Homo sapiens: one gene and its partners. The protein of the gene in region 1 purifies or fractionates together with the protein of each later gene. This does not show direct contact. Each region holds a gene or a part of one and is shown in the gene's direction. Other genes may lie near its edges.

What was found.
Region 2: the proteins of SPECC1 (region 1) and PCDHAC2 purify together in Homo sapiens (co-immunoprecipitation; one large-scale study listed by IntAct). This does not show direct contact.
Region 3: the proteins of SPECC1 (region 1) and CCDC61 purify together in Homo sapiens (tandem affinity purification; one study listed by IntAct). This does not show direct contact.

Annotation. Positions count from the first base shown.
Region 1 is NC_000017.11:20,004,685-20,014,899, forward strand, and holds the start of SPECC1 (cytospin-B), read left to right. Parts: upstream 1-4,674; 5' UTR 4,675-4,740; intron 4,741-5,478; exon of another isoform or gene 5,479-5,533; intron 5,534-5,836; exon of another isoform or gene 5,837-5,968; intron 5,969-10,215.
Region 2 is NC_000005.10:140,962,085-140,972,152, forward strand, and holds the start of PCDHAC2 (protocadherin alpha-C2 isoform 1 precursor), read left to right. Parts: upstream 1-4,391; 5' UTR 4,392-4,682; coding exon 4,683-7,247; coding exon of another isoform or gene 7,248-7,337; exon of another isoform or gene 7,338-7,396; intron 7,397-10,068. UniProt on the Homo sapiens protein: Potential calcium-dependent cell-adhesion protein. May be involved in the establishment and maintenance of specific neuronal connections in the brain.
Region 3 is NC_000019.10:45,990,289-46,000,627, forward strand, and holds the start of CCDC61 (centrosomal protein CCDC61), read left to right. Parts: upstream 1-5,178; 5' UTR 5,179-5,216; intron 5,217-10,339. UniProt on the Homo sapiens protein: Microtubule-binding centrosomal protein required for centriole cohesion, independently of the centrosome-associated protein/CEP250 and rootletin/CROCC linker.

The DNA of each region.
Region 1 (10,215 bases):
ATGGTGAAACCCCATCTCTACTAAAAATACAAAAATTAGCCGGGTGTGGTGGCACGCGCCTGTAATCCCAGCTACTCAGTAGGCTGAGGCAGGAGAATCGCTCAAACCTGGGAGACAGAGGTTGCAGTGAGCTGAGATTATGCCACTGCTCTCCAGCCTGGGTGACAGAGTAAGACTCTGTCAAAAACAAAAAACAAAAACCAAAAAACTCCAAATCATAAACCAGGTGGAGGCTGACAGAGGTACTTGAGATTAAGCAGGAGAAAACCAGAGCTCTTGTGAAGAACCAGCCGAGCTCACTAGCAAGATGGGGGCTGACCTGGGAATAGGGTGCTTTACACATCTTAGAAGAACACTGAAATAACGTATTAGAACAAATGTTTTCAACTTCAGAAAAATTACCAGATAGAAAGAGGAATTGAGGCTGGGCATGGTGGCTCACGCCTGTAATCCCAGCACTTTGGGAGGCTGAGGCAGGTGGATCACTTGAGGTTAGGCGTTCAAGACCAGCCTGGCCAACATGGTGAAACCCTGTCTCTACTAAAAAGACAAAAATTAGCCAGGCATGGTGCCACGCGCCTGTAGTCCCAGCTACTTGGGAGGCTGAGGCAGGAGAATTGCTTGAACCCGTGAGGCAGAGGTTGCAGTAAGCTGAGATTGCAGTGAGACTCTGTCTCAAAAAAAAAAAAAAAATTAAATCTATAGAGTCAATCTATTGTGTCCCAGGAAATATTGGCCCAGAATAATAATTCCAAAATGTATAACAGTGAGATTTCTGGATTTCATAGACAAAGAGATAATTCTTGGAGCATCATGGCAATTACTTCACTTCTTTGTTTTTTTTTTGTTTTTTTGAGACGGAGTCTCACTCTGTCGCCCAGGCTGGAGTGCAGTGGCGCGATCTCAGCTCTCTGCAAGCTCCTCCTCCCAGGTTCACGCCATTCTCCTGCCTCAGCCTCCCGGGTAGCTGGGATTACAGGCGTCCACCACCATGCCCAGCTAACTTTTTGTACTTTTAGTAGAGCCGGGGTTTCACCATGTTAGCCAGGATGGTCTCAATCTCCTGACCTCGTGATCCACCTGTCTCGGCCTCCCAAAGTGTTGGGATTACAGGCATGAGCCACGGTGTCCGGCCGGCAATTACCTCATTTCTGAGGAAAAATAAACCAGGCTGACTTCTGGTTTCATTACAGCAACACTCAATTCTAGAAGACAATACTTATACATTCTTCAATAAATAAAGTATAACCCAAGAATTTATACTCAAACTTTTACAGGATAAAGGCAACAAATATTTTTAAACATGAAAAACTCAGGGAATATAATTTTCATAAGTTATTATTGTTATTTTAAAGAGATAGGTTCTCACTTTCTTGCCCAGACTGGGGTGCAGTGGCACAATCAGAGGTCACTGCAGCCTCAAACTTCTGGGCTCTAGCAATCCTCTTGCCTCAGCCTCCTGAGTAGCTGGGACTATAGGCACACGCCACTACGTCTGGCTAAATTTTAAAATTTTTTGTAGAGACAAGGTCTCACTATGTTGCTCAGGGTGGTCTTGAACTGCTGGCTTCAAGCGATCCTTCTACCTCTTGTCTCCCAAAGTGCTGGGATTACAAACGTGAGCCACCACACTCTGCTCTATAAATTATTCTTAAGAAACTAAAGCAGGATCATAACTTACCACAAAATGGGTTGGGGAAAAAACTATGGCAAAATAACTGTTAATAATACTTCTGAATCTTTTAACTGTAGGAGTGGAACTAAAACAAACGTGGGATTATGGTTACACAGCAGAATGTATGATTTTATAAACCTACTAACGTGGAAATGGTATAATTAACATCTTTTATATCTAGGAATCCAAATATCTCATTCAAAGCTGATTTAAAAATCAAGTGATAAAGATATTTATAAATGTAGTTAATTAAAAAAGCAAATACTAAAGAAGGATAAAATCATTTACATTAGGTGAGGAGAAGAAAAGGGGTAAAGAAAAAAGAGGGAAATTACAATGTCATTTTTATTCAGAATAGGGAGTTAACAGACAGTCTGAAGAAACTGAGGACGATGTGTATTGCGGAGTATGATTATAAGGCAACTCCCTGAATAAAAATACAAACCTTCCAAATTATCAGAAGAAACACAAAACACAATAAACACAAAATATGCAATGCAAGAGTGAAAAAAGGACCAAAAGGGCTATGAAACAGCATAATATAGCTGTCACATGAATAGGGCTCAACTCATCTATGGCAAGATAAAGATTTTCAGATTTAATCACAAAGCAAAACTTAGTGCTCTAATTCAAGGGATTACCTAAAATAAAGGGTTCAGAAAAGACGAAAACAGCAAAGGTTGTTTGGGGTAACAAACAAAATTCAGCAGGATGGTAAAATATCAGACAAAGTTAAATTCAGGGCAAAGTTTGAACACATTAAATGAGACAAGGAAGGTCATTTTATGATGAAGTGGGAAAATTCCCAAGAATATAAGACAAATGAATATTTATGCACAAATAACATGGTACTATTTATAAAGCAGGACTTCAGAGAAATAAGGAGAAATAAAAACACAATAGTAACAAAAGATTCTAATTTACCTTCTTCCGATTACGTTAGATCAAAATACGTCTAAAAAATAAAGGAGAAAAAATATTTTAAAAAGAAGAAGAAAAAAGCTCCAGTATAACCAAAAACATAAACCTAAGAGCTGATTCTTTGAAAAAAAAATACACTTTTAAAAGTTAACAAAATAAAGAAGCAAAAATACACAAAATAAGATATTTGGGAGAAGTTAAAAGATTCACAAAAGACTACTTTCCTCAACTTTATGCAAATACACTTGAACATCTGGAAAAAAAGGATAATTTGTTTTAAGAAATACATGCTTTATCAAAATTAACTCTAGAATAATTTTTAAAATGTAAATAATAAAATTGCCACAGAAGAAACTTTTCTAGCCTTAAAAGATTTACCCTCCCCAAAGAAAGCATCAGGCTGGGAGGAACATTTTTAACTGGGAAATGATCAAACCTCAAAGAATAGATAATTTTAATGCTCCTTAAATTGTTCAGAGTAAAAGGAAAAAGCAAACATGCCCATTTTTTTTTCTTTTTTTTTTTTTGTAGAGATGGGGGGGTCTCACTGTGTTTCCTAGACTGGTCTCGAACTTCTGGCCTCAAGCACTCCTCCTGCCTCGGTTCCAAATTTTTTATGATGTGAGCATAACATTGATTCTGAAACCAAACAACATTAGACATTCAAAAAGAAAATTATTGCCCATCTCATTTTTGCATATCAATGCAAAGCCTGTAAATAAAATATTAGCAAACAGAATCAAGCAGTATATTTAAAAAAAAAAGACAAGTTTATTGCAGGGATAAACTGGGTTTTTATTAGGAATTTATTATAACTAGGACTCATTACTTCAATATGAGGAAATCAGCTGTCACCCGGTTTGCTCGTCCTTACAGACATCTCCCTCCTCTTCCTCTCTTCCTTTCCAGTGAAAATGTCTTCAAGTTTCCTCTACCAAACCAAAACTTCACCCCACTTCTTTTATTCTTTCCTCCTCTCTTCTCAGAACAAAGGGGTTGTTGCTGACCAGCCCAGGGTTTCTTATTTGGGGCCGGATCATTCTTCCTTGTGGGGCAGTCCTGTCCTTCAGGTAGGATGTTGAGGAGCACCCTCGTGTCTACCCACTTAGGCAACAGTAGCAACTCCCGCATCATGACAACCAAAAATGTCTCCAGACCTCCCCAAATGTACGCGGGGCGGCGAGGAGGGGCAACACCGGCCCTGGTCGAGAACCGCTAGCCTAGGCTCGCCCCTCTACCTGGGCGCCACAACTTGCCAGGGTTGGTTATTCTCCCTGGATCCTTTCCTTCCTCCTCATTTGAGCTTCACGCCCTCAAGTATGACCAAAGGTTCTGTCATTCCACTCCTGCAGTTTTCATTAAGGTCTTAGGCCACTTCCATGTCAAGAAACACAGTGGCTCTTTCTAACCCCTGGCCATGAGGCACCCCTGGAGGAGGAGCCGTGAGGGTAGGGAAGATGCTGAGGGGGATGTTGACCTTGCCGACTTCCAGGCGCCTCCGCTGCATCCCGGAGGAGGCGTTGGGCGGTGAGGGTGCAGCGGGGGGGCGGGCCCCGCAGGATGAGGTGTCCGTGTGCGGCTAGCGCCACAGGCAAGACCGGGCTCCTTGCGGGGCGGAGGTGAGGCCGTGAGCATAGCTCTCAAACTGGAGGGCGCCTCAGAATCACTTGACGGGCTTGCGAGAATGTGGACTGCTGGGCCCCACCTTCATGGTTTTAGTGCAGGAAAAACCGAATAGGCTGGGTGGGACGGAGAATCTGCATTTTCTCAAGTTCCCAGATGAGGCTGAAGCTGCTGGTCCGGGCACCACCCTTAGAAAACCTCCAGTGTAGAGTGCGGAAATGGGGTCCACATCTGGCTTGGGACGCCCAAACATCGATTATGTGCGACCAGAGGATGAGCAGATAGGGAGATGAGACACTGAGAGCTGGGAGAGAGGGGGCCCCCGGCCGCCGGCTGAAGGAGGACGGCGCAGGCGGCGGTCCGGGTACTACATCTCCCAGCGAGCCCCGCGCGGCTCGCGCTCGCCCCCTGGCGGCGATGGCTGGAGGCGCCGGCGGAGCGCGGGTCCCTCTCCTGAGCATCAGTGAGCGCCCGGAGCCGTGGCCGCTGGGGGTTGCGGCGGCGCTGAGCCAGCGGGGCCGGTGAGTACTAGCCGCGCCGCCAGCCCGCCCGCCGGCCGGCTCTTTGCGCCTCAGCCGCGTGGTCTGAAGGGATGGGCGGGCGAGCGCGGGGGTCCGGCAGTCCGTCGTGGGGGCACGGGACTGCCTTTCTGGGAAGGCGTGCTGCGTCTTCGCCGCGGGGGCCCCGGTCCCCTCGTCGCGTGTCCTGTCCCCAGCCCAGGAGGGACGTCCTGGCCTGTCCTGCCCGGCCCGGAGCGGTGGGACCGGTGCCGCAGGTGGCAGCGGCAGGTGGCCGCCTCCTCCCCTCCGGGCCCGAGGGTTGTCGCAGGGACCCGGGACTGAGAGCCAGGTGGCTCCCGACAGCTGCGGCCCTGGAGGCGACCCCAGCCCTCGCCGCAGTGGGACAGGTGCGCGGGCACGCCCGGCCCCGGCTCCTGGGTCTCGGGAGCCTCCCGCACCCTCCCTGTTGTGCCTTGGGGGTGCTGCGTGGTGCAGAGGACCGAGAAGCCCTTCGCCCTCGGCGTCCGCCGCGCTCCCGCCCCTTCCTGGCCGGGGTGACAGGGGAAGGGCTAGGGCTGCGCATCCCGGGTCAGCTGGGGCGCCGCGGCGCAGTGCACCTGGAAGGCCCGGGGGCAGCGCGCGGTGCCCGTGGGTTTCCCGGTGGTGCGGACCTGCGGGCGTGCGGAAGTAACGACCTCCTTCCCCAGTGCCCATGCAAGGAAATTAGTGTTATGTGCTTGCTTTTTTTTTTTTTTTTTCCTAAGGAAGTTTGACTCTGAATATCTTATTTTGCTGGAGCTCCATTTGCCAGCACGTAAGTTTATGTAATAAGCGGCATACAGTTCGGAAAAAAATTTTCCTGTGAAAGTGCTCTTCCTTGCCCTCTGCAGGAAGAATTACGCCGAGCTGGTTGGCAGGCTTATCCACCAGCAACTGTAGGAGCTGCAGGCAGCAGATAAAGTGTTTTTTGAGTAAGGGCACAAGTCAGCCCTTCAGGACAATTTTTGTTTTTGGAAGATTCTGTTATCCAGTTCCAAACACCGTGTTATTTCAGTGTTGAAGATGGGGGAGGAGGGAGGAGCACAGGCTTGTCAATCCTAATACCTCAACAGAAATTAGCTTTGCAGGATTAACTCTCCAAGCAAGCGAGTTGAATTTGGTAGCCCAAACTACAGCTGAAGCTGAGCCTCCATACTAAAGCCTGTCTCAGTTTTAATAGTTTTTCGCTTGATTCGTTTGCCTCTTCCAAGTAGGTGATCTTATTGTCTGTTAAACAACAGATGTCTCTCATGTTTTTACTTTTTTCCTTGTCTTCCATAGATTACTCTCGCTGCAGTGTTGACTATTGAGGTTAAATAGGAATCTTTGTCTTGGGCTTGGTTTTAGGGAGCATTCCCTCTGTATCTTCACCGAGTGTATTCTATCACATTAAGTACATTTCTGTTTATGCCTAATTACTAAGAGTTTAAAAAGTCAAGGGTGGGTGTTGGGTTTTTTGCCCAAATGCTTTTGTGTAGCATGCATTGATATGATCATGTAGATTTTCGTCTTAAAATTGTTAACATAAGTGGTGGTCACATTGCTAGATTTTCTTTCTCTAAAACCCTGGGCTAATTTAAAATGCACTTTTGGATTGTTCACATCAATAAGCTAGCATCTTATTTAGGGTTTTGGTATCTGAGTTTGGCATATAGTTTACCCCATTTTTATCTGTGTTCATAACAAGGATCAGGCTGTCCTCTCTGATTAAATTGGGAAACTTTCCATCATTTTCTATGCTCTGGAATAGAAGAATTATCTGTTCCCTCAAGTTTGGCAGAACTTGACTGCAGACTGCCTGGGCTGCTGCTGGTGTTGTTTAGGCAGTTAATATCAGTATTTAATTACCTTTTCATTTTTTTCATGATCATTTATTTTTCTCAGTTTTTCTGTTTCTTCAAAGTAAATTTAATATTTTCTGTTTTCCTAGAAAATCATTAACATTATTGAAATTTAATATATGCTAGCATAATGTTGTATATAGTATTCTGGTGTAAGAAAACAGACTCTTACATATCTGTATGTATCTGTATGTTCTCTTTCTGATACAGTACTTTTTTTGGTACCTTTTCTCTTTTTTTTTGATCAGACTTGCTTAATGATTATTTTATTAATCCTTTCAAAGAACCAGCTTTTATTAACCAGGATTTATTGATTAATTCTATTGATTTTTTATTTTTCTATGACATTAATTTCTGTTTTTTATCTTTCTACTTAATTTGAGTTTATTTTGTTCAAGTTTTAACTGTTTGAATGGAAAACCTGGCTCATTTATTTAATCAGTCCTGTGAACAAGGCAAGGACTTCTAATTCTTTCATTCCACTTACCTCACATTTGGCCTTAATTGTATTTTTACTTCAACCCTTCCAACGAGACATTATTGCTATTGTTTTTGTTATTTTCTAGGTCAACATTTATTAGCTTTATCTACCTGTTTACCATTTCTTCACTTTCCATTCCTTCTTGTATCACAGATACTTTTCTTTGGAACATTTTTCTTCTCCCTCAAGTACATTCTTTAGAAATTACTTCAGCAATGATCAATTTTCTGTTTTTGTAATATCTGAAAATGCCTTTATTCTCCCTGTATTCTAGAATTTTGGTTTCACCATGTGTCTTCTATTGATTTCAGAGTTATTTTTGTATTTTTTTATATTTTTAAAAAGATGTTTTGTAGCTGGAAGGTTTTTAGGATCTCTATTCTGCCACAGTGCTGAAAGAAAAACAAAGATTAAGAACAGATTAATTTGCAGTCCACTGTCAGTCACGACTGTTCCCTGAACTCTTAGTATATTGGGTATACAGTTCTATATTAATCTCAAGTTTATTGATGGTAATTCAGGTTTTCTGCATCCTTAACTTATTTTTTTTCTCTGTTTGACCTGTTGATATGGAGAGTTGTATTGAAGACTCCCATTATGATTCTTGTAGGGGTTTTTGTACTATTTCTATGTTTAATATATATTTTTCTTTAAATGTTGTATTTTTGAAGCTGTTTTATGTGCTTAAAGGTTCACAATTCTTGTATCTTCTTGGTGAATTGTACCTTTTGGGAATAAACGAGCCATCTTATTTAATTTTTTTTTTGTTCATTCTCTTTATATTGCTGTACTTGCTTTTTGTTAGCATTTATATGGAATATCTTTTTCTAGTCACTGATTTTCAATTTTCTGTGTCTTCTTTAATTGTTACTCTTACCATTAGCTTATGGCTGGATTTTGTTTAATTAGTTAATCTTTGTCTTTTAATAAATATTGTGGTAAAATAACATAAAATTTATTATTTATTATTTTTATTTTTACCATTTACTACTTTTAAGTTTACAGTTCCCCAGTGTTAAGTGTGTGCACATTGTTATGCAACCAATCTCCAGAATTTTTTCATCTTACAAAATTGAAGCTCTGTATCCATTACCGCAGCCCCTGGCAACCACCATTCTGCTTTTTGTCTCTATGAATTTGCCTATTTTAGGTACCTTGCATGAGTATCTAATATAGTACCTCATATAGTATTTGTCTTTTTATAACTGGCTTATTTCATTTAATGTAATGCCCTCAAGGTTCATCCATGTTGTAGCATGTGTCAGAATTTTCTTCATTTTTATTGCTAATTAATATTCCATTGAATGTATACACCACATTTTGCTTATCCATATATTTATCAAAGGATATTTATGTTGGTTCCACATCATAGCTATTATGAATAATGCTGCCATGATCATGGGTGTACAAATATCTCTTCAAGACCCTGCTTTCAGTTATTTGGGTATATACCCAGAAGTAGAATTGTTGGATCAAGTAGTACTTCTATTTTTAATTTTTTGATGACCCAGCATAGTGTTTTCCGCAGAGGCTGAACCATTTTATATTCTCACCAGCAATGCGTGAGAATTTCAGTTTCCATACATCCTTGCTAACATCTGTTATTCTCTCTCTTTTTTTGATAGTAGCTATCCTTATGGGTGTGAAATCTTTGTCTTTTAATAGGTAGCTTTAGCCCATTTATATTTATTTTGATTACTGATCTTTTGCGGATTATTCCTGTCATCTTATTTTATATTTTTGATTTCCTTTTTTGAGACGGAGTCTTGCTCTATCGTCCAGGCTGGAGTGCAGTGGCACGATCTCCGCTCACTGCGACCTCCGGCTTTCGGGTTCAAACGATTCTCCCAACCCAGCCTCCCGAGTAGCTGGAATTACAGGCCTGCAACCACTATGCCCGGCTAATTTTTGTGTTTTTAGTGGGGACAGGTTTTAACCGTGTTGGCCAGGCTAGTCTCAAATTTCTGACCTCAAGTGATCTGCCTGCCTTACCCGCCCAAAGTGCTGAGATTACAGGCATGAACCACTGTGCCGAGCTGGTTCATTTCATTCTCATTGCTGTGTATATGCCATTGTATATATCCCTAATATAGATATACATTTGACTTTGATTGGCAGTTGGTTGTTTGCATTTTTGGACTATTATGAATAGTAAGTACATGAACACTCTAGTACACGTCTTTTGTTGAGTGAGTGTGTGCATTTCTGTTGAGTGTGTATCTGGGAGTGGAACTGCTTGGTTGTAGTCTGTGCATGTGCTCGGTTTTAGTAGATACTAGCAAACAGTTTTCAGTACCGGTTGCACCAACTTATTTACCCCAGAAGTATATGTGGTTGCTCCACATTCTTGCCAACTCTTGGTAATTTCTGTCTTTTACCTTTTAGTTATTCTGGTGGATACTGTGGTTTTAATTTGGATTTTCCTGATGATAAATGAATTTGCACTGTTTTGGTACCCTTAGTTTTTCACACATATCTAAACATTTTTTTCTCTTGCTATTAAAAGATAATCTGTTTATGTGAACTCTCCATGAGTAAAGCAAAAAAGAATCTTATCATGATTTTAATTCTGTCCCATATTAAATTTTTGGGTTTTCATACATTATGCATAAACAGTTATTTAGGTAAACTGTAAATTTTTCTGATTATTTACTCATCATTGGTGCTTTTATTTCATTTGTTTTCTTAATGAGTCCTTAAGTGATTATTTGGTTTTGTTTTCAGGGATTCTGTGAATGGTAAACTTTCTGAACCCTTGCATGTTTAAACAATGTTTTTTATTTCACTTTTCCATGTGAATATTCTTGACTGGGTATAGGATTCTACGTTAAAACCTTCTGAATTTTGGAGATATTGCTTTATCTGCTGGTATCTAGGAAGAAGTGCACGCGTCTGACTCTCGTTTCTTTGTAGTTAATGTTTATTTTCTCTGAAGCTTTACAATTTTTTTTCTTTCTCCTTGGTGTTCTAAAATTTAACTATTATTTGTCTAGGAGTGGATTTTTTTTTTGAGATGGAATCTTGCTCTGTCACCCAGGCTGGGAGTGTGGCATGATCTCGGCTCACTACAACCTCCACCTCCTGGTTTCAAGTGATTCTCCTGCCTTAGCCTCCCAAGTAGTTGGGATTACAGAT
Region 2 (10,068 bases), on another chromosome or scaffold:
CCATGTTAGCCAGGATGGTCTCGATCTCCTAACCTTGGCCTCGGCCTCCCAAAGTGCTGGGATTACAGGCGTGAGCCACCACACCCGGCCACTTATATCACTTTTATGCTTCCTATCTCCTTATTGATCTTGAGGTTCAAGTTTCACTTAACCATTTTCTTCAATGAAAAATAATTTTATAATTTAAAAAACCTCAACCTTTAATATTCTATGATTCTTGTTAGGCCATCTCAATTGAGAATACTGATAAAGAAGTAAAACTCCCCCCAATACTGGCTAGTTTGATTTTATCTGTTAATATTACGCAATCTGCCCCAAACCTGTCTCTCCCTTTTTATTGTTACTTATCCAAAGATGGCTTGAATCTCTTATGGCTTGAATCTCTTTGTTTATTCTAAGCAATTTTCAGACACCTCAGCCAACTATCAATAATATATTAGTTTTTTAGAACTAAAAATGTAGAGGATCTCCCCCTAAAAGCCAATTGTTAATGCCAAATATTTGACTGATATATTTCTTCTGGAGGAAGGGAGATGTGAAAAAATTTAGCCATCAAGTTATGTGAAAACTTTTTCATCTTCCCATCCACTGGATGTTTTATCTGTAAATAATGCTATAATCATATTGGAAAGTATTTTCCTTCTGGGGATGCATGAAGATCAGGAATCCTATTCGTTTTTAACAAGATGGAATTTTTAAAAACTACTTTGGACAACTCTAAACATCAGAGATGACCATTTGTCTCTTTTTTATTATATAACTTGTGCTCGGTTTGTAGAGCAACATAAATACATGAATTAAAAAATGAAAACTAGCTCCTTCCCTATTTGACAGATACTTCTCAACCTCCTCTCCATAAGATATGCTCTATCCCTATATAGGAAATTTTTCTGTAGCAGCTTGAGTTTACTAAAAATAAGATCTGAAGAAAATGAAGCAATTAACATTTATTGAGAGTCTATAAGGGTTTCTACATTGTGAAGGAGACAGAAATATAAGACATGGCTCCTGCTTTCAGGTTGCTTATAATTAAAGAGATAATATTAAATTATTTGGATGAATTTAAAAATGACACATGCCATCTTACAGATATGCTGTAGACTGTGAAAATGAAAAAAAAAACCTCGTGTTTAGAGTAGACACTGTTTGATGGATTAGGTAGGTTTTCATCTGGACTTTGAAATGTATGTAAGATTTTATAAGGAGGAGAGAAAATAAGAAGCTGTTTGTATTAGAATTACACAGATAAATTTGTAAATTTAGTTCTTTTCAAAGAACATTAATTGAGCACCTCTGTGCCAAGCTCCCTACTGGATGCTGTAGATTACAGCATGTTTAGGAACTAACTTCATACTCTGTTGCTAAAGTATTTCTGTGTTTTCTAAAAAGGTAAATCTCTTGTGAGGAAACAAATCTCTTGAAGGGGTTCTCATAACAGAAGTCCCATTTACTTCATGATATAAAAAGGGGCTGTTTTCTGGTTTTGTTCTCAAAATGTAGGATATAGTTCTAGACGTAATTGGGAAAGCTTAACTTTGTTGCATACGCATCTTCCCTATCATGGTTGATTTCCTATATGGCATAGTTAAATGTGTTTATCCGTGTTTGATATCTAAAGGGCCATGCTACATATAGACTGCCAACTAAGGTTTTATCTGATGATAATAAATTGTTGTATTTCATGACGACAGCAACAACAACAATAATGTACTTAACTAGTCACTGTGCAAATTGCTTTACATACATTTTCTCATGTAATCATAATAATAACCGTATGAGTTTTGCTTACTATTGTTTTCCTTAATTAAAATGAGTAAAGTGAAGCTTAGGCTAAGTAACATGTCCATAGCCAAACAGTTAGTCACTGGCAGGAGTGTGACTGACTCCAAAGTCTATATTCCTAATTACTGTGTTCTACTTTTTAATAGAGAGCTCTTGAAGGTCCAAGGAAAGGAATGCATAATGGTGTGGTCAAGGCATTAGTGTTAATATTTGTAGAAAGGGTAATTAACAACAGTCTGAGCAATCACATTCTAACAACTAGTAAGGTTGGCAGGAGCCTCAGTATAATGGTGTGAGGAACGAAATCATTATAGTGCCAAATAGAGTATACCATCTCTTTAGTACAATGTCTTTCAAAATGAGGCTGATTGTGTTGGCTTTATATTTGACTCCTTAATAATTAAGGCAGTAAATTCTAGCTGGAGCTAAATACCTACAAGGCCTAAAACAGCATAATGGACAACCTGGCAGGTGTCCTTGCTGGAAGATGACAAGAGTGCTGAAAGGAGAGTCCTGGTTTTTCTCCCAAGACATGACATTTGGGGGCTTCCATTAAAAAATTACCAAGCCTCTGCCACTGTAATCTCTTCCTTAAGTGCCTATGATTTTTTCACAGTCACAGGTCTATGCCTGGTCAATACCCAGTGGCCAGGTCTCTGAGCTGCGTGCAGAGATGGCAGCGACTTGGAGGGCTGGGAGGAGATAAGGGGAGGAAAGATCACTTTTCATGACAACTTACAACTTGATTCCACTTATAAGCCATTTATTTTCAGAAACAAGTAATGGGTGAGGACACAGGCCAGGTCCACAATTTGTGCACTTGAGAGATTAAGGCCTCCGAGATCAAATTACCACAGCAAACTGAGACAGAATTATTGTAGGGATGTTTGGGGAGGATGCAGAGAGAAGAGGAAGAAGCCAGAGACCCAAGAAAGGAGACAGGAATAGATTTTGATGAAAATTGCTTCCTACTCTGTACCCTTGAGGAAACAAAGAGGACAAATAAGAAGCAGCAGTGATAGGAGGCTGGGCGCTTCTCTGGAATAACACTGGCTAGGTAGTGGAGCATTGATAGTGAGTGTGCTTGGTTGGTGGAACGAAGGGATGTGCTAGTTCAGGCCTTTGAATTCTGGGTGTCAGGATCACAACCTTGGCTCCTTTAACTGTCCGCTCTAGGAGGGAAGCATGCCAAATGTCAGGTCTCACTCTGACTTTGTTCCAGTCCATAGCTAGAAAATGACCCATAGAGGAAGATCTACAGATGACAGAATACTGGGAGATGAAGAGAAAGGACGTTTTAGTGAGTGCTTTTTTTGCACATGAGGCAATAGATTTCAAATTCCTGTGGAAGAAATGTGAGAACCTGGGAAGAGTGAATATTCAGAACTGAGCAGCAGAGGCAATGACACAGCATGGAAAGATTTCCTCTGATCCTTCTACCTTCTCTTTTACTGAAGTGAATTTGTTGTCTCTGTGTTGCCTCTATAGCAGTACAAGAGGAAACTTGGGGACACAGAAGAACAGAAGTCTAAGGAGTCTTATATTTAAGGAAGATAAGCTGCAGTCATTGAAATTGCTGGTTATTGTAAGATAAATCCCAGACTCCCACATTTTGCTTAATGACAGCAGATTTTTTTTTTTTTTTAACTGCAAAGCATTAATGGAATCCAAATTCCAGCCTGGCTTAGGAGATCAACAGTAACGCTCTTGATTTAATGGTTTTGCAGACTCTTGAAGACATTGTCATCCATTAAAGAAAAAATTTTAAATTACTCTTGAAAGAAAATGTCTTGGGTGATAAATGTAAAAGATTTGAAGCAAGATTAGAAAAAGCTTGAGAGAAGAATCTCTTTAAAAATTTTACCAGATTTTCCCCATTGTCGCCAAAATGGGTCAAATAATAGATTTGCCTACAGCTTCATGGAGACTATTTTTTTAAACAGAGCATTTTAAACATTTAAATATTGGTTATTTGCCAAGGCACACACTGAAAATAAGGGCCACTTGGCCGAGAGCAGAATTGAGTCTTGGATCCCAGGATGCTGGTTTTAGGCTTGCTCCCGGAAAGAGGGCAGCATTTGCCATCCCCCTCCTTTTGCCCTAGGAGTTGAGCACTTTCTGCAGTACTTAAGAGTGTCCAGGGAAGATGTGGGAGTCAGGTGAATAGTTCCCATCGCCAGTAACCCCAGAGCGCCTCCCCCTGCGTTGTTTCCTTTTAATGTTAGATCCGCCGCCTGGGTGCCCATACTTAGCTAAGGCCCCTCAGTTTATTTTCCTGAATTGCGCTTGGAGATCTTTTCCTGGGGAGCTGATAGCCAGACTTCTAGGGGCTTGACTGCTTTTCCCAGACTAATCTCCTTAAAGACCCGTTAAGCAGGGGAGAGACGGTGGAGACTGGATGAACTGGACAGTGGGGGTAGGGAGAAAGGGAGTGGCCGTGTTCCTGCGGTCCGCTGGGATCCGGCAGGTCCAGGGTGAAGGAGATGGGGCTGGAGAGGCTGAGCAGTCCGGGTTCGCTGTCCGCCACTTCGGCGCGGAATCAGAGCAGGACTTGCTGAGCCCTCCTACCGCTCCCTTTCCCCCTCCCCCTCTGTCTTCCCTTCTGTTTCCTTTTCCCTCCCCCTGGAGCTGTAGCGGCAGCAGCAGCAGGAAGCCGAGCCGGGTTGAGCGACTCGGAGGCGAGCGGAGGAGCTGGAATATGGGGAGTCAGCGAGGACGGTGGGGCCAGGAGCCCTTGGGAGGGCCTACGGAGGGAGCGGCCCCAGGCGCTTTCTAGAGCGTGAGCGGTGGGGGAGCAGGCGCAGGGTGGCACGAGCGGAGGCGGGGCCCGGGCGTGGGGCACGGCTGGGGAAGCTGCCGCCTCCGGCCCTGCCCGGCTGCCTCCGCCGCGGCCAGTGGCTATGGAGCAGGCGGGCACCAGACCTGCGGCGACAGAGCATCCACGGCTCCGGCGGCCCATGCCCTGGCTGCTGCTACTGCCTCTCCTGCTGCTGTTGCTGCTGCTGCTACCTGGCCCTGCGGCCTCCCAGCTGCGATACTCTGTGCCAGAGGAGCAGGCACCCGGCGCGCTCGTGGGCAACGTGGCTCGCGCGCTGGGGCTTGAGCTGCGGCGCTTGGGGCCGGGTTGCTTGCGCATCAACCATCTGGGTGCGCCCAGTCCGCGCTACCTGGAGCTGGACCTGACGAGTGGAGCGCTCTTCGTCAACGAGCGCATTGATCGGGAGGCGCTGTGTGAGCAGCGGCCTCGCTGCCTGCTCAGCTTGGAAGTGCTGGCGCACAACCCCGTGGCGGTGAGCGCCGTTGAGGTGGAAATATTGGACATCAACGACAACTCACCGCGTTTCCCGCGGCCCAACTACCAGCTTCAGGTAAGCGAATCGGTGGCGCCTGGAGCGCGCTTTCACATAGAGAGTGCGCAGGACCCCGACGTGGGCGCCAACTCAGTACAGACCTACGAGCTCAGCCCCAGCGAGCACTTCGAGCTGGACCTTAAGCCCCTGCAGGAGAACAGTAAAGTGCTTGAGCTGGTGCTGCGTAAGGGCCTAGACCGGGAGCAGGCAGCCTTGCACCACCTGGTTCTCACAGCCGTGGATGGGGGCATCCCAGCCCGCTCGGGTACGGCACAGATCTCTGTGCGTGTCCTGGACACTAACGACAACTCTCCTGCCTTTGACCAGTCCACTTATCGCGTCCAGCTACGGGAGGACTCACCCCCAGGCACATTGGTGGTGAAGCTGAATGCCTCAGACCCGGATGAGGGCTCCAATGGTGAGCTCAGGTACTCCTTGAGCAGCTACACGTCGGACCGGGAGAGGCAGCTCTTCAGCATAGATGCCAGTACCGGGGAAGTGCGAGTAATTGGGGGGCTGGATTATGAGGAAGCCTCCTCCTACCAGATCTATGTGCAGGCGACTGACCGGGGTCCAGTGCCCATGGCAGGTCACTGCAAGGTGCTGGTGGACATCGTGGACGTGAATGACAATGCCCCAGAGGTGGTGCTCACGGACCTGTATAGCCCAGTGCCTGAGAATGCTACACCCAACACCATTGTGGCCGTTCTCAGTGTCAATGACCAAGACTCAGGCCCCAACCGGAAAGTGAGCCTGGGTCTGGAGGCCACACTGCCTTTCCGACTGAATGGCTTTGGAAACTCCTATACACTGGTGGTGAGCGGCCCACTGGACCGAGAGCGGGTGGCTGTCTACAACATCACGGTGACAGCCACAGATGGGGGAATACCGCAGCTCACATCCCTGCGTACACTGAAGGTTGAGATCTCTGACATCAATGACAATCCACCAAGCTTCCTGGAGGACTCCTATTCCATCTACATACAGGAGAACAATTTGCCAGGTGTGTTGCTCTGTACTGTGCAAGCCACAGACCCAGATGAAAAGGAGAATGCAGAGGTGACCTACTCCCTTCTGGAGAGGGAGATTCAAGGGCTGCCAGTCACCTCCTATGTCTCCATTAACAGTGCCAGTGGCAGCCTTTATGCTGTCAACTCCTTTGACTATGAGAAGTTTCGGGAGTTCTTTGTGACTGTGGAGGCTCAGGACAAGGGGAGCCCACCACTGAGCAGCACTGTGACTGCCAACGTATATGTGGTGGACATGAATGACCATGCCCCTCACATTCTGTACCCTACCTCAACCAACTCGTCAGCAGCCTTCGAGATGGTGCCTCGAACTGCCCCTGCTGGCTACCTGGTCACCAAAGTCATAGCTATGGACTCAGACTCTGGGCAAAATGCTTGGCTTTTTTACCATCTAGCCCAGACTTCTGACCTGGACCTCTTTAAGGTAGAGCTGCACACAGGAGAAATTAGGACTACCAGGAAGATGGGAGATGAGAGTGGTAGCACTTTCAACCTGACCGTGGTGGTCCGAGATAATGGAGAGCCATCACTATCAGCCTCTGTGGCCATTACAGTAGCTGTGGTGGATAGGGTTTCCAAAATCCTCCCTGACACTCAGAGGCATGTTAAGAGCCCTCGGACATACTCTGAAATTACCCTTTATCTAATAATAGCATTAAGCACAGTGTCTTTTATATTTCTTTTGACAATCATCATTTTGAGCATCATCAAGTGCTACCGCTACACTGCGTATGGCACTGCATGCTGTGGAGGCTTCTGTGGAGTAAGGGAAAGGTCCCCTGCAGAACTGTACAAACAAGCCAACAACAATATTGATGCCAGGATACCGCATGGCCTCAAAGTGCAGCCTCACTTCATTGAAGTTCGAGGGAATGGCTCCCTCACCAAGACCTACTGCTACAAGGCCTGTCTGACAGCAGGCTCAGGGAGTGACACTTTCATGTTTTACAATACAGGGGCCCAGACAGGACCAGGGCCTTCGGGAGCCCAAGCAGCAGTGACTGACAGCAGGAATCTCACAGGCCAAAGTGGTCAGAATGCTGGGAACCTGATTATTCTCAAAAATGAGGCTGTTTCTCAAAATGAGGTGAGACAGTGGTCAGGGGGTCTTCTACAAACTCATGCATTTGTTACACATCCCCCAATATCCTGTGATTTGGCTTTATTGAGTCATTAACAGTGACAAGAGTTATCTGGTAAACTGAGTATATATAGTATCCACAATTTGATCATAATCTGCTATTTCCTCTCTAGAAAAATAGCACTAAAGAATTGTTTTATTTTTCATTTTCAGAGGCATGAAGCCTTGTCCATAAAATTGTTTGAGAAGTGAGGATTAGTCTTAATATTTAATGCTAAAACACAGATTTGTAGAGAAACAGGACAGGCCTTGGAATAGGGATTATGTTTTAGGGAGTAATGTTATGAGACTCAAGGAGAAATGGCCTCTGCTGTATCATCTACAGGGAAATTTTTCTTTTGAAATCCTATATGAGTGATGTTTCTTAAAAAGCTCTGAGGCCTCTAGGGGCTATCATAGTCACCACTATCTGCTGTCTCTGTTTATACTCTGGACTGTCTACAGTGGAAATTATCTAGTTAATATTTCTGGTACTTGCACTGAACCTATGTGATAGGATCCTCTGGAAATGCATGTCACAAGTGATAAAGCTGTAGTATTTAGACATCATACTGAAGCTAAAGTTTGCTTTGGCTGTATGATGTGGCAACTCTTCTGTAGAGGGCTGTCAGAGGGAGTGGATGATGGTGAGGCAGAGAGATTAAGTACCAATTTGTCTGGTTGGTCCAGGGAGGTATTAGAATGAGTGGATTAGGGGTGTGGGGGGATGGTGAAGACCAAGAGAAGCTGGGATTAGAAGGAAGAGAAGGGAAAAAGAATTCTCCCAATAGTCACCTTTCTTGGCATACTCTGAATTCATTGTAAGAGGATTTCCCTGAATTTAGCTTAAATGCAGCCTGTAATCTTCTGATTTTCTGTTGACAGTTTCTATGGTTTTGATGAGATGTAAAGTAGCCTTTTCAAGTCCTTCATGTCTTTAAGTTAAATGACAGTACTTCCAAAGCATGCATTCATTTTCTGGATCTAAAATTTGATTTGCTATAGCTTCAAAAGGCTGGCTTGGAAAGTGGATGGCTTACCCTACAGTAAGGTGTAGAGGCAGGTGTTAGTATATGCACTAGTTTTGAGATTTAAGTAGGTATAAGGCCAGCTTGTTCATTATTATGAAGAATGTACATAAATTATTAGAAAGTAGATGAATATGTGTGTGTGTTTGTGTTGTGTGTTCGTCTCCATATGTATGCTTGAAATAACAGAGATATGCTTTGTGATACTTAAAACTTGGATTTCAAAAGCCAAAATTTTGTACCATAAATAGTGATGAATTGTTATCTTTCCAAATAACTACTTTGTAGAAAGGGCTTTTAGAGCTACTACACAATGTGTGAACAATATTTGTCTCTCCTCTATTTTTTGCAATATATTTTCATTGACATATTGCTGTACATACATATTGTATGTAATATCCATATTGTTACATTTCAAGTTCATGGTAATCTTGAGGAATGTAATGCACAGGCACAAAAGTTCCATTCCTGATTGAGAGTAGATTTTTCTCATGGACATTTCAGATAGATTTATTCATTTATCAGAAGTGCCTGGTGTTAGTCAATGCTGAGAAACCATGGGAGGCAGATTGTAGATTAAGAAAAATGGGGGAATAAATCAAAGAGTTTCCAGAAGTCTTTAGATCGTAGCATTTGAAAGCACGTAAAAGGGTTTAGCTTTAAATAAGGTTGCTGTAGACATTTGCTTAACAAATTCTTGTGAAGCCCTTTGGGATTGGGGTGGGCTACAGGTGGTGAAGAGGCATGAACAAGTCAGGCCAGGCTCAGCTTTGCCACCAGCTGTAAGCCGGAAGCTCAGAGGAAAGACACTGTTACCCTCCCTCTCCTGACTCAAAGCTTGGGGCAATTTGATACATAAACTATTTCTGTCTTACACTGACCTGTATATTAATATGTACTTTGGTACACAAACATTTAATCTAGGGAGAAAATTATTTCAGAAAGTGCTTGCTTTTGGGAGATTTTGCCAGGAGAGTGCATGACTTTAATAAAGGCAAATTTCTGCCAGGCACTTTTGGAAATCCAGTGAAGAACCCCAAGATCTACAGCTCCAGAAATTTTTGCAGTTATAGGGAGAGAGTGTCACATTGTTACAGTGTGGCAAGATAGGAGCAAAAGCCACTCAGTTCTGAAAGTCATCATTGCCAGATCAACCTGTTAAATTCCCATGTTGGGCTTTCTTTTTTTCCTACCTAGTTACTACAGATGGCAGGAGAGTCCTGGGGTACAATTAGTACCATGTGCCTACATTAAAAGTAGATGGGAATTAGAGAGGAAGAGTAAGGGAATTTGTACTCACTAACCACCCTGCTATATAGATATATGTATATCATACATATACACATACATATATCTCATATTACTGAATCTTGAATATTATTCAAGATTATTCAATATATTGAATATTATAATATTGAATACATATATGATTTCATTACCTGCAAGTCATGCGTTAAATATTTGTTAACATCTAGCATATGAGGAAATAAGCTCAGGGAGGTTAGGTAATCTACACAGCCACACTGCTAGTGTTATTTTAAGTTGTATCCATCTGACTCCAAAAACTTTTTTTCAATACTATGAGTAGACAGAAGTTCCAATGTTTATATTCCCTTTTATATGGGATATTCAGGCATTTAAGCTATCACTAATTCACCTAGTCGTATATATTAACTGCTTTTGGAAAAAGAGTAATTTCTGGCATAGAAGCAGGTAACAAATGGGAATATCAGTGAGTTACTACTATTTTTTTATTTTTA
Region 3 (10,339 bases), on another chromosome or scaffold:
TAGATTCTAACCACTTCTCACCACCTCCGCCATCACCACCCTCGTGGAAGCCACCATCACCTCTCATTCTAATGATTTTTTAATCTGTTGCTTAAATTCTTTTTTTATTGAGGTGAAATTCACATTAACAGAAAATTAACCATTTTAAAGTGAGCAATTCAGTGGCATTTAGTACGTTCATAATGTTGTGCAATCATCACCTCCATCTAGTTCCAAAACATTTCATCACCCCCCAAAGGAGACCTCACACCCATTAAACAGTGATTACCCATTCGCTCCTTCCCCCAGCCTCTGGCACCACAACACTATTTTCTGTCTCTGTGGACTTGCCTCTTCTGGACACTTCATATAAATGGAATCATACACTATGTGACCTTTTGTGTTTGTCTTCTTTCACTTAGCATCATGTTTTCAAGGTTTATTATCCATGTTGTAGCATCTATCAGCACTTCATTTCTTTTCTCTTTTTCTTTTGTTTTTGAGATGGAGTCTTGCTCTGTTGCCCAGGCTCGAGTGCAGTAGCGCGATATTGGCTTGCCGCAACCTCCGCCTCCCGGGTTCAAGCAATTCTCCTGCCTCAGCCTCCTGAGTAGCTGGGATTACAGGCATGCGCCTCCATGCCTGGCTAATTTTGTATTTTTAGTAGAGACTAATATGGTTTTGCCATGTTGGCCACGCTGGTCTCGAACGTCTGACCTCAGGTGATCCGCCTGCCCCGGCCTCCCAAAGTGCTGAGATTACAGGCATGCCACTGCACCTGGCCTTATCTGCTCATAGATTTATGGACATTTGGGTTGTTTCCACCTTTTAGCTATTGTGAATAATGCTGTTATGAACATCCATGTACAAGTATTTGAATACCAGTTTTTAATTCCCAGGTATACACCTAGGAGTGTAATTGCTGGGTCATGTGTTAATTCTGTTTAACTTTCTGAGAAACTGGCTGTTTTCCATGTCCACATTATTTTAACAGCCTAAGTTTTTTAATTTAAATTTTTATTTTTAGAGATCGGTTCTCACAGGCTGGAGTGCAGTGTCGAACTCCTGTCCTCAAACAATCCACCTGCCTCAACCTCCCGAGTAGCTAACAGCCTATTCTTAATGCAGCCACCATAATGATCATTGAAGACATGAATGAGTAGGCCAGGCGGTGGGGCTCACCCCTGTAATCCTAGTACTTTGGGAGGCTGAGGCGGGTGGATTGCTTGAACTCAGGCGTTCCAGACCAGCCTGGGTAACATGGCGAAACCTCGTCTCTACTAACAATACAAAAGTTAGCCAGGTGTGGTGGTGCATGCCTGTAATCCTGCTACTCGCGGGGTTGAGGCAGGAGGATTGCTTGAAACAGGGAGGCTGAGGTTTCAGTAAGCCGAGATGGAGCCACTGCACTCCAGCCTGGGTGACAAAGTGAGACCCTGATTCAAAAAAAAAACAAAAAAAGACATGAGTAAAATTATGTCCTCTCTGCCTAATACCTTCGATGGCTCCCACCTCACTCAGAGTAAAACAAAAGGCCTCACAAGGGCCGACAAGGCCTTATATAACCTGGTCTCAGGCATCCTCCCAGACATCATCTTCTGTCACACTCCACACACTCAATATTGATGTCTTTGCTGTTTCTTAGAAACACCAGGCATGTTCCCACTACAGGGCCTTTGTACTCACTGTCTCATCTTCTTGCAATGGTCCACCTTGGTACCCTCAAGGCTGGCTTGGCCAGGAGCGGTGGCTCACGCCTGTAATCCCATCACTTTGGGAGCCCGAGGCGGGTGGATCACATGAGCTCAGGAGTTCGAGAGCAGCCTGGCCAACATGGTGAAACCCCATCTCTACTGAAAATACAAAAATTAGCCAGGCATGGTGGCATGTGCCTGTAATCCCAGCTACTTGGGAGGCTGAGGCAGGAGAATTGCTTGAACCCAGGAGGTGGAGGTTGCAGTAAGCTGAGATCACGCCATTGCACCTCCAGTCTGGGCCACAGAGCGAGACTCCATCTCAAAAATAAATAAATAAATAAATAAAAATAAAAATAAAAAAAATAAATAGGCTGGGTGTGGTGGCTCACACCTGTAATTCCAGCACTTTGGGAGGCTGAGATAGGTGGATCACTTGAGGTCAGGAGTTCAAGACCAGCCTGGCCAACACGGTGAAACCCCATCTCTACTAAAAATACAAAAAAATTAGCCAGGCCTGGTGGCAGGCACCTGTAATCCCAGCTACTCAGGAGGCTGAGGCAGGAGAATTGCTTGACTTTGGGAGGTGGAGGGTGCAGTGAGTCAGGCGCCACTGCACTCCAGCCTGGGCGACAGAGTGAGGCTCTCTCTCCAAAATAAATAAATGAATAAATAAATTCCTGGCTCAGTCACTTGCTTCAGGTCTCTGCTCTAAATCAGCTTTTCTGAGACATCTTCCCACCCCTCTAACCCCCAGTTCCATCCACTTCACTCTGCTTTATTTTCTCTGTAGCACTTATCACCCCGGACCTGGACATTTCTTTCTTTCTTTTTTTTTTTTTTCTTTTTTTTGAGATGGAGTCTCGCTCTGTGGCCCAGTCTGGAGTGTAGTGGCCTGATCTCAGCTCACTGCAACCTCTGCCTTCCGGGTTCAAGCGATTCTCCTGCCTCAGCCTCCCAAGCAGCTGGGATTACGGGCATGCACCGCCATGCCCAACTAAGTTTTGTAGTTTTAGTAGAGACAGAATTTTGCCATGTTGGCCAGGCTGGTCTTGAACTCCTGACCTCAGGTGATCCGCCTGCCTTGGCCTCCCAAAGTGCTGGGATTACAGGCGTGAGCCACCGCGCCTGGCCTATTTCTTTACTATATGTTATTATTTGCCTTCCTTTCACTAGGGTATGAGCTTTTCCTGTTTGTTACCAGATGTTTCTACCTCCAGCACCCAGAAAAGTGCCTGGAACATAGCAGGTGCTCAATAAATGGCCTGACAAGTGAGTGAAGAAATAAGTGAAGCAATGAATTGAACTCCACTTACAGATGAAGAAAGTGAAGTTCCCAGAAGAGGCATGACTTGTGGGAGGTCTCACAGCTGGCAAGGGAAAGCCTTCAGATTCTAATCCATGTTTCCTTTTTTTTTAATTGTTATTTATTTATTAATTATTTTCTTAGAGACAGAGTCTTGCTCTGTCACTCAAGCTGGAGTGCAGGCATTTATGGGATTTAGCTGAGGGGAAGGTGAAGTGAGAATACATTTAGATTGGGTTTACAGGGATATTTTTATGTGGTTCATAGATACTTCTCGGATACTTAAACCACCTAATTAGTTGTCATGGCGTAGAAATGGCTTCCCGGAATGCTTCTGTTGTGTAAGTTACTAACTCACTAGATGCGAGGCCACAGCCTACTAAATGGCATGAATGTATCTTTTAGCGGCTCATTCCAGAAGCATCTGTGTAACAGAAATGTCAGGAATTGAAAGGAAGCCTGCGCGGTGGCTCACACCTGTAATCCCAGCATTTTGGGAGGCTGAGGTGGGAGGACTGCTTGAACTCAGGAGTTCGAGACCAGCCTGGGCAACATAGTGAAACCCCATGTGTACTAAAAATAAATTAAAAAAAAATTAGCCAGATGTGATGGCGTGTGCCTGTAGTACCAGCTACCTGGGAGGGTAAGGCAGGAGGATCACTTCAGCTCAGGAGTTCAAGGCTGCAGTGAGCCATGAACATGCCACTGCACTCCAGCCCAGCGATGAAGCGAGACCCTGTCTCAGCAAACAAAGAAACCAACAAACAAAAAATTGAAAGTATTGAGCCAGAAGTTAGTCTGTGGAAACATTTTCCAAAACATAGTTAACATGTGAATGAAACTTTATGAAAGTTTTTCTTTTTTTTTTTTTGGAGGTGGCATCTCACTCTGTTGCCCAGGCTGGCGTGCAGTGGCACGATCTTGGCTCACTGCAACCTCCGCCTCCCGAGTTCAAGTGATTCTCCTGCCTCAGCCTCCTGAGTAGCTGGGATTACAGGCGTCCGCTACTGCGCCCAGCTAATTTTTTATATTTTTAGTAGAGACAGGGTTTCACCAGGTGGTTCAGGCTGGTCTCGAACTCCTGACCTCGTGATTCCCAAAGTGCTGGGATTACAGGTGTGAGCCACCGCGCCTGGCCAGAAGTTTTTCTAGATTTCCAAAAGACTTCAATAACATCACCAATACTGATTTGTGAAGCTGAAACTTGTTCTAAATTATAATGAATTTTTAAAAAGTTCCATCAACCACGCTAGAGGAAAGATAACTTACTTTTCTCTTTGTAGACAAGGATATTGTGAAACATGCAGCTGAAAAAGTAGGAAACATCACAGAGGTGTGTCAGGCAGAAAATTAATAAAAACATTACGTTATCCTTTGGGATTTTGCAATGTTTGTGGTATTTGGCTCTTTTAAATATGTAATTTGTTATTATTTCATATTCTAAGTAAACTTTCATGTCAGTTTTTTTTTTTCTTTAAACTTTATTTTCCTTTCTTAAAGAGGTCCCTCCTCCCCCATCCCCGCGCTCAATTCCTTTAGCTGGATCCTTCCAGTTCATGACTGATCGGTTTAAAATATGGGTCGTTCAAAAGCCGTGTGAACCCGGGCTAGTGGCTATACCTCTCTGAGACTGTTTTCTTAGTGGTAAAATGGAAATCATAATAACTTTGCAGGGCTGTTATAAAGTTTAAATAAGCCAAGTCCTGCAAAATGCTTAGTGCAGGTTTGGAATGCACCAAGCGATGACAAATCTCAACCTGTCTTTATGCTGAGACCACTCCCCAGTTTCCGGAGCCGCGGCCACTATCTCCCCATGCGCATGCACACCCGGCTCTCCCTTCCAGGCCCTCCCCACCACGTGGGCGCGGCCTACCCTCCCGCAGGGGGTAATAGGTGGAGTCAAGGGGCTACTTCCGGGATTCTTTCCCTTCCACTCTGGGGAACAACCTTTTTGTATGACTGGCAGCATTATTAGCCAGTAGTGATTAGAGAAGAGCCCGACGTTAGGTGCCTCCCCCAACCCATTTGGGACAGCCTCTTCTTAGTTAGCCAATTGGAAGTTTTGGAGGGCGGGTTCTCCTCTGGGGGAGGGACAGAGTGATGGGCGTCTCTTTTGGCTAATGGAAACTTGGCTGCTGGTAAGCTGTGACCAATCAGAAGCGAGAACGCCGGATCCTGGGGCGGGGCTGGAGCTTCGTCAGTTGAACCGCTCGCGAGGAGGGTTGCTAGTGGAGAAGGTGAGAGGCCGCGGGAGTGGCGGTTGCGCGGGCCGTGGTGGAGGTCTTAGGTGGAGGGGAAGGGGCTTCTCTCGGGGGAGAGTGGGCTGCGGTGGGCAGCTGACCTGGCCTTGTAGGAATCGGGAGGGAGGGTGCCCTTTAACAAGGGTAGGCGCTTGATTGAGGGGTTGTGAGGCTGAGCGCAGCATGTGAGTTGGGGGTGATCTGTATATCGCAGGAGGGTCTTCAATGGGGAAAGTTGTAAAGCAGGAGACAGCAGATGGTAAAATATAGAGACGTCCTTGGAATGCAGCGTGGCGATTTAGTAGGAGGTTTTAAGGCAGAGGGTTATTACAGCGCACTATGCTTTACAAGCTTTGATTTGGGTGAAAGTCGTGGGAAGAAGCAATATTGAGGAAGGGAGGGAAGGAGACCTCCAGGGATGAGCATGTACTTTAAAGAGATGTGAAGCCCTATTATGCCTGTGGCGTTTGCTATGTGCTGTGCACCTGCCAAGTGTTTTAGGTGAATTAACTCTTAAACTTACTCTACTGATGGTTAAGAATGTGGGCTCTGGCGTCGGGTTGAATCCCGAATTTGAATCCTGGCTCTGCCACTGATCATTACTGTGGCTTTGGGCCAGTTGTTTAACCCTTCTGTGCCTCAGCTTCATCATCAGTAGAATGACATCATCTCTGTCTATACCATTGGCTAGCTTCACCCTCTTTATCTAATGAGAACTCCCACGTGTGTATTTCCAGCCTGGATCTCTGCCCTGAACTCCAGACTCATATCATGGCCGACTCTTCTCTCTTTGGAAGTTCATCTGACATTCAGACATAAACTTGTCCCAAACCAATCTTGCGATTTCTTCCTTTCAACCTCCAAACCCAGTTGATGGGACATTCATCCTGCCAGGTACTAAGATCAAGAAGCTTGGAGTGTTCTTTTTTTTTTTTTTTTGAGACAGAGTTTCGCTCTTGTAGCCCAGGCTGGAGTGCAATGGCGCGATCTTGGCTCACTGAAACCTCCACTTCCCAGATTCAAGGGAATTACAGGCGCCCGCCACCACACCCAGCTAATTGTTTGTATTTTTAGTAGAGAAGGGGTTTCACTATGTTGGCCAGGTTGGTCTTGAACTCGTGACCTCAGGTGATCCACCCGCCTCAGCCTCCCAAAGTGTTGGGATTACAGGCGTGAGCCACCGTGCCTGGCTAGCTTGGAGTCTTCTTCACTTCTCCCTTTTGTCTTACTTATATATGGTCTAGCAGATCGCATTAGCTCTGTCTTCAAAACACATCCAGAATCCAACCATGCCTCACCAGCTCCTTTGCTACCACTCTGGCCTCAGTTTGTCTCCTGCTCTTACCTGGTTTGTTGCAGTGGCCTTCCAGGTGGGCTCTCTGCCTCTCACTGTTAGGGGGATACTAGTAGAACAGAAGTCAGGTCAGGTTGTTTCTCCTTTCAAACCCTCTCCTGGCTCCCACATTACACTGCAAAAGTCTTCACCATATCCACGAGGCCCCAACCTATTGGGTTCCTCCTCCTCCCTCCCCTCAACTCCCATCACTTCTCTCATTCCCCTGGCTCACTCTGCTGCAGCCACCCTGGCCTCCCCGCTGTCATTTGAACATAGCGAACACATTGCCATCTCAGGGCCTTTGTACTCGCTGTCCCTGAACGCACTGCCACCTCAGGGCCTTTGTACTCGCTGTCCTGTCCTTCTGGATCAGGTCTTTTCAGGTGTCTGTGTGGCTTCTTCCACACCTCTTTCAGGTCTCCGCTCAGACGTCAGCTTCACAACCAGGCATTTGCTAAAGTACTACTCAAGCTAAAATAACTCCTGTCACTGTATGGCCCTTCACTTGGCTTTATTTTTCTTCATAACACCACTACCTGATATAGATTATTATTATTATTTTTTTTGAGATGGACTCTTGCGGGTCACCCAGGCTGGAGTGCAGTGGCGCGATCTCGGCTCACGGTAGCCTCCACCTCCTGGGTTCAAGTGATTCTCCTGCCTCAGCCTCCCAACTAGCTGGGATTACAGGTGTATGCCAGCATGCCCAGCTAATTTTTACATTTTTAGTAGAGACGGGGTTTTGCCATGTTGGCCAGGGTGGTCTCAAACTCCTGACCTCAGGTGATCCACCCACCTCAGCCTCCCAAAGTGCTGAGATTACAGGCGTGAGCCACTGCGCTGGGCCTATTATTATTTTTTGAGATAGAGTCTCTCTCTGTCACCCAGGCTGGAGTGCAGTGGCCTCATCTCAGCTCACTACAACCTACGCCTCCCAAGTTCAAGTGATTCTCCTGTTTCAGCCTCCCAAGTAGCTGGAACTACAGGCATATGCCACCACGCCTGGCTAATTTTTGTAATTTTAGCAGAGATGGGGTTTCACCATCTTGGCCAGGCTGGTTTCGAACTCCTGACCTCAAGTGATCTGCCCACCTCAGCCTCCCAAAGTGCTGAGATTACAGGCGTGAGTCACTGTGCCCGGTCCTCACATCAATTACTGTTGGTTTATATCCACTGGGCTTCTTGGACCTCCCCACTAGAGTGTTTGACTCCATGTGAATATGGAACCCAGCACCTAGAAGAGCACATGGTGTTTAAAAAGTGTTGCTTCTCCTATACTGTCCTCACCACCCTTTGGGGTCTCCCTGTGGTATGGGGCAGGGTTGCTGAACTAGGAGGGTCATGTGTGGGGTGGTAGGGTCGGAGGTGGGGGAATAAACTGGGCAGATTGTGGCGCCCAAGGGCAGAAGGAACCTTTAGTGTCTGAAGGAACTTGGAGGAAATGCAGATTTCTGGGCCCACCCCCAGAGTTTCTGCTTGTGTATAGTTGGGACCCGACCTAGGAAGCTGCATTTTCATAAGCACTTGTGGTAAGGATTATGTTCCTTGGCCATCACTGTGAGAAACACTGTTAGGCTGGTTCAGAGTTTGCTGGGGCCACTGTGGTGATTGAGACAGCTCCTGACCCAGCCTGGGAGTCAGGGAGGGCTTCCTGCAGGAGAGGGGATTGGAGCTGAGACCTGGAGGATGACAGGGAATGAGCCGAGGGGAGAAAACCTTGGCTGTATCCCCAGTGTCTAGAACCCCATTCCCTGGCATCTCCCGTTAAATTCACAAGCAGTCCCTGAAGATACAAGATTGATTAAAATGGCTCTGCCCTCACGGGCTCCTGGTCTGTCAAATAATCAACAGATCACACAGATGGTAACAGGGAGTGCCAGCCACTGTTTGAAGCACCTTATATACACTAAATAATTTAGTTCAACAACAACCCTATAAGGTAGGAGCTCTTATTATCCCGCTTTACTGATGGGGGAAGGCCCAGAGAGGGCAAGTACTTTGCCCAAGGACACACCAAGGAGAAAGGCAGCTGGAATCTGAACCCAGAAGTACCCAGCCTGCAGCATGTGCCATGCTTAAGGTGTGAGGCCGCATTTGGGTTAGTTCTGGGAGGAAACAGGAGGTGGTCAGGGAAGGTCAGCTGGGTAAGGGGAAGGAAGACGAATGTTTCTGTCTTTCATGGTGGGATCCTAGACAAGCCTCAGTTTCATCCTCTGTATAATGGGGATGGTTATAATACCCACCAGAGAGCAGAATTTAGGGTGAGTCATTCATTGGGTTAATAAGTGTGCATGGTCCTTATCTAAGGCAAAAGTTTGCCTTTGAGAGACAGTGGGAGAGGGAGTTGATGCCCCAGGGGGAACTGGGGTGCCGCAGTGTGCACCGTAGAGATTTCATTGCTTGGTTCCCCAGAGGGCTTCTCTGTCTCTACAGTCTATGGGGACAATGTGGAAGGCTTTGGTCTGTATTCTGGGGCAGTGAAGGGGGGGTTCTATCCAGCCTCAATTCACCCACGTGGTGGGGAGGTGAGGTCAGAATGGGGTCGGGAAGGGGGTCATCCAGGCCAGGCCACGCGTGTGAATGTGGGGCGGAGGGCTGCTGCAGGAGAGAGCCCATCTAGGGTATGGCTGGGCTGGAATATGTGTTGGCGGTGGTGGGGAGCTGCAGAGTGTGGGGAAACAGCCATCAGGTGTGGGCTGCCAAGGGCAGTGATTTGCCCGTGTCTGGTATGGGAGGTAGTGATGTAGATTTGTCTTTGGTGAGCCCAGCGTGGAGAGTTTTCAGCTCCGGCCCCGGGGTAAGAGCTGTGAAATCTGTGAGCTATCTGGGGAGAGCCATTTGGAAGGTGGAGCCAGGGGTGGTGATGTAACGCTGGAAAGGAAAGGGGTCATCCTAGTGAATGATGAGAGGGAGAGAGCTGGGGGCTGAAACACTGGGTGTAAGTGTGCCAGCGCCATGATGTCATGAGGCCCGAGAAGTGGGTCAGGTGTGTGGGCCAGGATGGGGCCTGGAGGGCAGCCGCACAGTGCTCGCAGGGATGGGGTGGTGACGTCATGGGTTGGTGAGGGCGGGGCCTCGAAGGCACCGCTGGGATGCGTGAGGTCAGGAAGGAGGCAGAGGCTGAGAAGAGGAACTGGGAGAGGCTCAGGACTGGAATGAAATCAGCCACCAGGATGAGCCACTGGTCATTCCGAAGCAAGGATGGAGGATGCAGGTAGAGGGACAGGGTCAGCGGCGGGAGGGGAGAGGGGGCTCAGGGTCCGGGGAATCCTAGAAGTGGCGGTGGTGGTGGGGTCAGTGGAGAGGAGGGGTTGTTCAGAGAGGGCTCTCTAAAGGGAAGAGAGGTGGAAAATATGTGTGCGGGTGGAGTGGGGGTTGGGGGTGGGGTTACAAGCAATTTGGGAGGGAACAGAATCCAGGTGAAATATGGGAGTGATGGAATACAGGCTGAAAGTGGGATGTGTGGAGCAGAACCTTGAGCAAATATGCGGGAAGAATGCAGTTGGAATAACGGGGTGCATTGAAGTTGAATATGCGGGAGCCCTAGGAGACCGTGGGTGGCTGGTGTAGGGAGGAGAGTGCGGCTGCCTCCCTGCCCCCAAATCTGGGAGAGCAGGATGGAATGAAGGGGCTTTGGACGGGAGAGAGGGGGCTGGTTTCCGGGGAATGTAGCATGAGGGTTGGGCTGGAATATGTGGAGTGGGAGGTTCTGCAGAGAGGAGGGGAAGGGGAGTCCAGAATTCCGTGGCCATCTGGGGGACAAGTGACGGGCAGCTGGGGTCAG